Homo sapiens: one gene and its partner. Changing the gene in region 2 together with the main gene of any one other region gives a genetic interaction. Each region holds a gene or a part of one and is shown on either strand. Other genes may lie near its edges. The genes, in order: PRKCZ and GPI.

What was found.
Region 1: changes in GPI (region 2) and PRKCZ together harm fitness more than expected from each alone (negative genetic interaction), as found in Homo sapiens cells (one large-scale study listed by BioGRID).

Annotation. Positions count from the first base shown.
Region 1 is NC_000001.11:2,168,774-2,172,579, forward strand, and holds part of PRKCZ (protein kinase C zeta type), read left to right. Parts: exon of another isoform or gene 1-677; intron 678-720; coding exon of another isoform or gene 721-744; coding exon 745-831; intron 832-3,281; coding exon 3,282-3,417; intron 3,418-3,527; coding exon 3,528-3,615; intron 3,616-3,806. UniProt on the Homo sapiens protein: Calcium- and diacylglycerol-independent serine/threonine-protein kinase that functions in phosphatidylinositol 3-kinase (PI3K) pathway and mitogen-activated protein (MAP) kinase cascade, and is involved in NF-kappa-B activation, mitogenic signaling, cell proliferation, cell polarity, inflammatory response and maintenance of long-term potentiation (LTP).
Region 2 is NC_000019.10:34,378,565-34,382,370, reverse strand, and holds part of GPI (glucose-6-phosphate isomerase), read right to left. Parts: intron 3,438-3,806; coding exon 3,366-3,437; intron 2,854-3,365; coding exon 2,809-2,853; intron 906-2,808; coding exon 852-905; intron 1-851. UniProt on the Homo sapiens protein: In the cytoplasm, catalyzes the conversion of glucose-6-phosphate to fructose-6-phosphate, the second step in glycolysis, and the reverse reaction during gluconeogenesis.

The DNA of each region.
Region 1 (3,806 bases), on a different chromosome or scaffold from region 2:
ATTCAGGTGCCAGAGGAGCCGCTGACCTAAAAAAACCCGCCACAGGGTATTTCTGGGAGATTGTATGAGAATTTAATTTTGAAAATTGAGTCTCATGAAATGTAGGAAAAGATCTTATTAGGAAGAGAAACCATGTGGCCCAGTCCCTGAGACGGGAAGGGCCTGCGTGGTCCTGATGACATCTGCGGATCTTTTAAAATCATACGATCATGTCTGCGAAACCGGGATGCCACTTCCCACCTGGCTTCTCCCTGACCCCAGCTTGTTCCCTTGGAGGGCCGGTGGACTCCTCAGCCTTGCAGCAATGAAATCAGGCCTTGAGGCCACCCCACCCGTGACCTGCGGTGCTGTCCCCATGCAAGAAACTGCCTCGCTCCAGCCCCCAGCAGATCCTGTCCCAGCCCCCAGCCCTGGTCCAAGCCACCTCCACTCCCACCTGGTGACGGGCCACCTCCTTCATTCCGGGGCCCACCCACACTTCCCAAGTCCACACACAGTGGCCAAGAGTGAAGGCCGGCGAGGCCCCCGCATGACTCCCTCACCTGCACCCTTCACGAGCGGCCCCGCAGCCCGTCCCCACCAGCCCCTCTCTGCTGCCAGGGTGCTCCTGCTGCTCTTTGCTCTTTGCAAGACTGAACCTGCGGGAGGGTTCGGGCCCACGAAGGCCGCTTCTGTGGGGCTTCTGTCTAAGGAGGCCGCCGTCTGCCGAGGTGACTGCAGCCTCCGGCGCCTCTCTCCCTGCAGGTTGTTCCTGGTCATTGAGTACGTCAACGGCGGGGACCTGATGTTCCACATGCAGAGGCAGAGGAAGCTCCCTGAGGAGCACGCCAGGTGGGTGCGCGTGGACGGGGCCGGGTGGGTGCGCCCGGAGTTGGGGATGGGTGGGTGCGTGCGGTGTTGGGGGGCTGGGTGGGTGCGCACAGAGGGATGACGGGTGGGTGCGCGCGGAGTTGGGGGGCCGGGTGGGTGTGCGCAGAGGGGAGGTGGCTGGGTGGGGTGTGCACGGAGGGGGTATGACGGGGGCGGGGGGGGCGGGGTGCACGTGGAGGGGGCCGGGGACCTTCTCCAGGGGTCAGCAGGGAGCTCAAGGGAGGGAAGTCCAGGTAGGATGGCAGAGGGCATCATGTCCCCCACAGTGTGACGTCCCCTGCATTGTGACACATTCCATATTTGCTCCAGAGTCACAACATTTGGGAGGTCTCCTGAGTTATGGTGCCTCAGACCAGTCCCCCAGGCCCCACCCCTGAAGCAGCACCATGCCTCATCCGAGAGAAGTGAGAGTCTCCTGGGATTGTGCTGTCTTCATGGTGGCTCTGCCCTGGTTCTGCTCTTCACCCTGTTAGTGGCACAGCATGGCCAGCATTTCCTCAGCGTTAGGAGCAGAACGAGAGTGGTCTGTTTCTAGAGTGACCTGAGAGACTCCTTCCTGCCCTTCCCTTTCATCTCTGATATCTTCGGGCCTCCCCTGGCAGCCGAGGGGCCTCCAGCATGGTTCAGGAGCCTCCCCCGGCAGCCGCGGGACCTCCAGGACCGTTTGGGGGCTTATTTCAGCTCCCTGGACCTTTCCTGTCTTTTGTAGTTTCTCCTTTTCCTCATTTCCTTACTTAAGAACGTTGCATGCAGTTTTGTGAGTCACCTTAGATTGTTTCTGGCAATAGGACAGTAGGCAATAAATCTAGAACAGTACACTTCCCACAACGCTGTTTTTAAAAACTGTGGCAACACACAACATAAAAGGTAGCATTTTGGGGCATGGAATTCAGTGGCGTTGAATGCACCCCATGCTTTGCAGCCACTGCTGGCCCCCGTCTCATCTCCAGAGCACGCCCCTCTTCCCTGCTGAAGCTTGGCCCATCAGACACTCCCTCCCTGTCCCCCGCCCCAGCCTCACATCCTCACCCCAGACGGGCACGTCCCACTTTCTGTCCCTCTGATTCGAGGACTCTAGGGACCTCATCGGAGTGGAATCACAGTGTTGGTCCTTCGGTGGCTCATTTTCCTGAGCATAGCGTCCTCAAGATTCATCCGTGCTGTGGCCTGTCTCAGAATTGCCTTCCTTTTTCAGGCTGGATAATGCCCCGTTGGATGGAGGGGCCACACTTTGCTTATCCGTCCATCCCTCGGGGGGCACTTGAGTGGCATCCACATGTTGGCCATGGTGAACAGTGCTGCTGTGAACATGGGTGTGAAGTAATCTCTTGAACACCCTGCTTCCGGTTCTTTGGGGTATACACCCAGAAACTGAATTGCTAACCACATAAGAATTCCATATTTAGGCCGGGCGTGGTGGCTCACGCCTGTAATCCCAGCACTTTGAGAGGCCAAGGCGGGCGGATCACGAGGTCAGGAGATCGAGACCATCCTGGCTAACACGGTGAAATAACACAGTGAAACCCTGTCTCTACTAAAAATACAAAAAATTATCCAGGTGTGGTGGCGGGCGCCTGTAGTCCTAGCTACTCGGGAGGCTGAGGCAGGAGAATGGCGTGAACCTGTGGGCAGAGCTTACAGTGAGCCAAGATCGCGCCATTGCACTCCAGCCTGGGTGACAGAGTGAAACTCTGTCTCAAAAAAAAAAAAAAAAAGGTCATATTTAATTTTTTTTTTTTTTTGATGGAGTCTCGCTCTGTCACCCAGGCTGGAATGCAGTGGTGGGATCTCAGCTCACTGCAGCCTCTGCCTCCCAGGTTCAAGTGATTCTCCTGCCTCAGCCCCCAGAGTAGCTGGGACTACAGGTGTGCGCCACCATACCCGGCTAATTTTTTTGTATTTTTAGTAGAGACGGAGTTTCGCCATGTTGCCCAGGCTGGTCTTGAATTCCTGACCTCAGGTGATCTGCCTGCCTCGACCTCCCGAAGTGCTGGGATTACAGGTGTGAGCCACCAAGCCTGGCACCGTGTTTAATTTTCGAGGACCTGCCGGACTGTCTTCCGCAGCAGCGGCGCTGTTCTGCACTCCTACCACAACGTGCCATGGCTCCGGTCTTTCCCGCATGGAAGCTGTCGTGTTATTTGCCCGCTCCTCCCCTTGTGGAGGCTGCCACATCGTTCTCTGTGTCTTTGACAGCAGGCCATCCTAAGGCGCATGGGGTGGTGTCCTGGAGCTTTCATTGGCATTTCCCTCCCTGGCCCTGTGCACTGCACTTTCAAATCCTGGGCCTGGTCATTGAGAGGATGCCGGGCCCGTGGTGGGGCAAACGGGAGTGTGTGGCCCCCAGGCTGGAGCTGTTGGCGCAGCCTCTGGCACAGGCACTGCCCCCATGACGGCATCCCCACCCCCAGGTTCTACGCGGCCGAGATCTGCATCGCCCTCAACTTCCTGCACGAGAGGGGGATCATCTACAGGGACCTGAAGCTGGACAACGTCCTCCTGGATGCGGACGGGCACATCAAGCTCACAGACTACGGCATGTGCAAGGTGCGTGCCTTGGACCGCCTCCCCTGACCATCCCGCATGTGCGTCTCGGGGCGCCTGTCCCGCGGGGTAGTGTCTACAAGAACCCTCTCCCAGTAACTTTGCCCCCACAGGAAGGCCTGGGCCCTGGTGACACAACGAGCACTTTCTGCGGAACCCCGAATTACATCGCCCCCGAAATCCTGCGGGGAGAGGAGTACGGTGAGTGCCGCTGCCCTGGCCCCTCTCGGAGCACACAGGGCCAGAGATGGCTTCGGGCCTGGCCCAGCAGCCAGGGAGAGGTGTCCTTGACCATCTTACACCCAAAAGCCACACACTGTCTTTCCCAGCCGGATGTCATCATCTGGCCTCAGCCCCTTATTTGAATTCTGGAAAACCTCCCATGTCCACTT
Region 2 (3,806 bases):
GCTTTCAAAGGAATGAGGTTATGTCTGTGGATGCCATCACCAAGCAAAGGGCCTCTGGTCCAAATGCCTGGAGACAGCCCCAGGTGGGAAAACCACCAAATGGGCAATGCCCTCTCTGCTGCGCCTGCCACAGCGTTAGAGCCCTGCACGTAAGCCCGGCCATGCCCACAGCATTCACAGTGCCTGCATCACACCCTGCACTGCACCCCTGCACCCTGGGCTTCACAGTCAGAGCCCTCCTCACACCACTGCTGAGCTCAGGCAAGTGCACAAGGAAAGCTGTGGCTCACTGCTCGGCTCCAGCAGAGGTGGTCCCATGGACCACCTGTTGCTACAGAGGGGTCGGCAGCCCTGTCACTCAAGGCAGGGTTTGCTCTGCAAGCTGCCCCAGCCTGGCGCCTCCTCTACGCCACCCCCCCAGCTCCTCCTGCAGCTCCTGTTGCTCCTTTCCAGGCCTACCCGGTCATACCTCATGCCTCACCCTGCCCTTGGCCTTTACAGATGGTGGCTGCAGTTCAGAGAAAGGTCATCACTGAGAATAACTCACAACCTCAACTCTGTGAGCGTGGCAAGGGGGACTCGGGTTACCCCACAGTGGGTGTTGCAGGCAGGCACCCAAGGGAGTGTCATGTGGCCCTGCAAGCTCAGCCCGCCCTCAGGTGGAAGTGGAGCCCTCATCCTGCCTGGGTTGCTCTTGCCCTCCAAGCCTCTCTGAGGGCCTCTCTACCTTTCCCCAAGCTAGGTATGCAGCAGGTACTCAATAAACACTGACCTGACCTCATGGGCCTCTCAACAGCCATGACTTGGCAAAGGACACTTAATTCACCCAGTGCAGAAGTGCTTGTACTTACATCCCAGAACTCGAACATGTTTTGAGGGTCAATTCCAAACTCCTTCACTTTGGTCTACAAAAAAAAAAACAAAGGGAGAGAAATGCAAAGAAGCATTTGCTAGCGGGATGGGAACAGGAGCTCCGGGAGGCAGGGAGCTGTGCTCCGTGAGCTGAGCCTCACCTTCCCCAGAGCCAGGGATGGGGCAGGGCTGGAGCAGCCTGTGAGTCGAGGGCAGGGCCCAGGATCTGCCCACCCCAAGCTGGACACCAGATCAGTCCATGACCAGCACGCCAGTGACGTTGTGCCTGCAAAGCCCCCTGCTGAGGGCAGCTGTAACCCCGTGTGAGGACCTGGCCCACACACTGCTCTGCAACAGCTCTCACCCAGGCCTGCCTGGGACACCAGAGCATGATACCCCTGGACATCTGGGAACCGAACCTAGGACTGGGACCCAAGTGTGGGCAGGGGCCACCTACCAGGCCAGGCAAACAAACACAGGCTGAACAGCCACCCAGCCCTTCCCATGTGTGGGAGGGTGACTGCACCAGGAAGCTCTGAGGAGCCATCAGGTATTCTGGTCCCCAGGGCAGACAGGGCCAGCAATTCCTTACCTATTCCACATAGGAGGAGAAGCCCTACTGACCAGTCAGTTGCAGGCAGGCAACAGTGCTATGGTTAGCCAGCCTTATGGCGTCCTGCTGCAGCTGGGTAGGCACTGGAGGCAGAGATGTGGGGATGATGGTGGAGGGGGTGGGAGGGAGATGTGGGTGTAGTCCCCAGCTCTGACACAGCACAGTGCCCACTGGCTGACTGCTGCTGTCACTCCTGGAGCATCCCTCACTCTGTCATGCCCTGCTGAGCCTGCACAACCTCGAGGCCAGGCAGACTGTGAGAACTTGGAGACAGGAGACCCAGGTTCTAATCCTGGCATCACCTACTCATACAGTCACTAAGTGGGCCGGGTACAGTGGCTCATGCCTATAATCCCAACACTTTGGTAGGCCGAGGTGGGCAGATCACTTGAGGTCAAGAATTCGAGACCAGCCTGGCCACCATGGAGAAAACCTGTCTCTACCAAAAATACAAAAATTACCTGGACGTGGTAGTGGGCGCCTGTAATCCCAGAATCAGCAGGCTGAGGCATAAAAATTACTTGAACCCAGAAGGCAGAGGTTGCAGTGAGCCAAGATCGTACCACTGCACTCTAGCCTGAGTGACAGAGTGACCTTGTCTCAAAAAATAAGCTGGACATGGTGGCACACACCTGTAATCCCAGCACTTTGGGAGGCTGAGGTGGGCAGATCACTTAAGGTCAGGAGTCAGAGACCAGCCTGGCCAACGTGGTGAAACCCCGTCTCTACTAAAAATACGAAAATAGCTGGGCATGGTGGCGTGCACCTGTAATCCCAGCTACTCGGGAGGCTAAGGCAGGAGAATCGCTTGAACCTGGAAGGCAGAGGTTGCAGTGAGCCAAGATCACGCCACTGCACTCCAGCCTGGGCAACAGAGTGAGACTGTCTTAAAAAAAAAAAAAAAAAAAAAAAAAACAAAACCACACACACTAAGTAGGGGGCAAAATGTCACCTCCCTTCATTGGGGCTTTATGTCCTTAAGTGAAAAATGGAATGCATCCTCTACCCCTACCTAGCATGTCACATTTGGGGAGATGCTGGGCACAAAGGCCTAGGAAGGTCATGTGTATGAAGGGTTCTGTGTATCAGTCAGGCCTGGGAGACGGAAGAAGGGGTTATCGTGATCCCACTGACTCCAAGCCTCCCTCCTCAAAGCTGCAGAGGTTGAATGGGTAAATGCGGAAAAGGCAAGGAAGGCTTGCAGCCCACAGGCAACCAAACCTTCCATACCATCAGCCAAGCCAAGATCCACCAGACCTACGAACCGCGTCTCTGAGAGGCCATGACCTGGACATGCTGGGCACTCCCAGGAAGGCAGTACAGGGGACCACGGGGGCACTTACTGTGTTAGTAGACAGGGCAACAAAGTGCTTCGCCACTGCAGAAGGCTACAAGAGACAGAGCCAAGTTACCACAGCCAGCCCAGGGAGACAAAGGGTAGTCACTTCCCATCACTAGAGGAACCAAGGCCCTGCATGGGACTGAGATTCCCAGTCCTTGGTTCTGAGACTGTTGGAGAAGGCCCACATCGAGGTCAAGGTCAAGAAAGCAGACGGGTCACAGGCCGCCTGCTCATCCCATCTTACAAGCATACGGGGCTCAGGGACGTCCCTCCCCTATAAAATAGGTGTGGCCAAGAGTTCCTGCAGCGCCAAGGGCCTGCAGAGAAAGGGCCATGCAAGGGCTGTCAGCCAGCGAGAGCAGGTTCTGTCACATCTGCAAGGCTGGGTCTGACAAAGCCAAGATGAACAATCATCTCATCTAGCAAAGGCAGGCACCGGCAAGGCCGCCTTCACTTCCAACTTCAGGAGAAACACGGCCAGACTTGGTCACTCAGGGGCCCACCCTGCTCTTCCCAGCCCAGAGGCTAACCACGAGGAAGGCCCTATAGCCCACTCACATCCTTGGCCGCCTGGAGAAACCACTCCTTCGCCGTCTCTGCATTCGTGATGGTCTCCTGGGTAGTAAAGGTCTGCAACCAAAGAGAACAGCAGTGGGCGCCCGAGCTTAGGGGTGGGTGCAGGCCTTGAGCCAGGGTTCAGCAGTAGAGGCCAAGGCAATGCCCAGCTGTCCCATGGAGCAGTATTTGCAGGTCAGTGACAGTGACGCCACATAACCTCCTGAGATTCCAGCTCTTTAAAACCAGAGGAGGGGGGACGGTAAACACACCCCCCAACCCTAAGCCTGCAGGTCAAAGGCCGCAGCTTCTCCCCTGAGGGGCTGCAGTCAACCTGAGGCTCTCTTCGGCCCAGGCTGGAAGGTATCTCAGAATTCAGATGGAATTCTTCATATTTTATGTACATTCATGTGAGTAAATAGAACATAAATAAAAACAAACAAA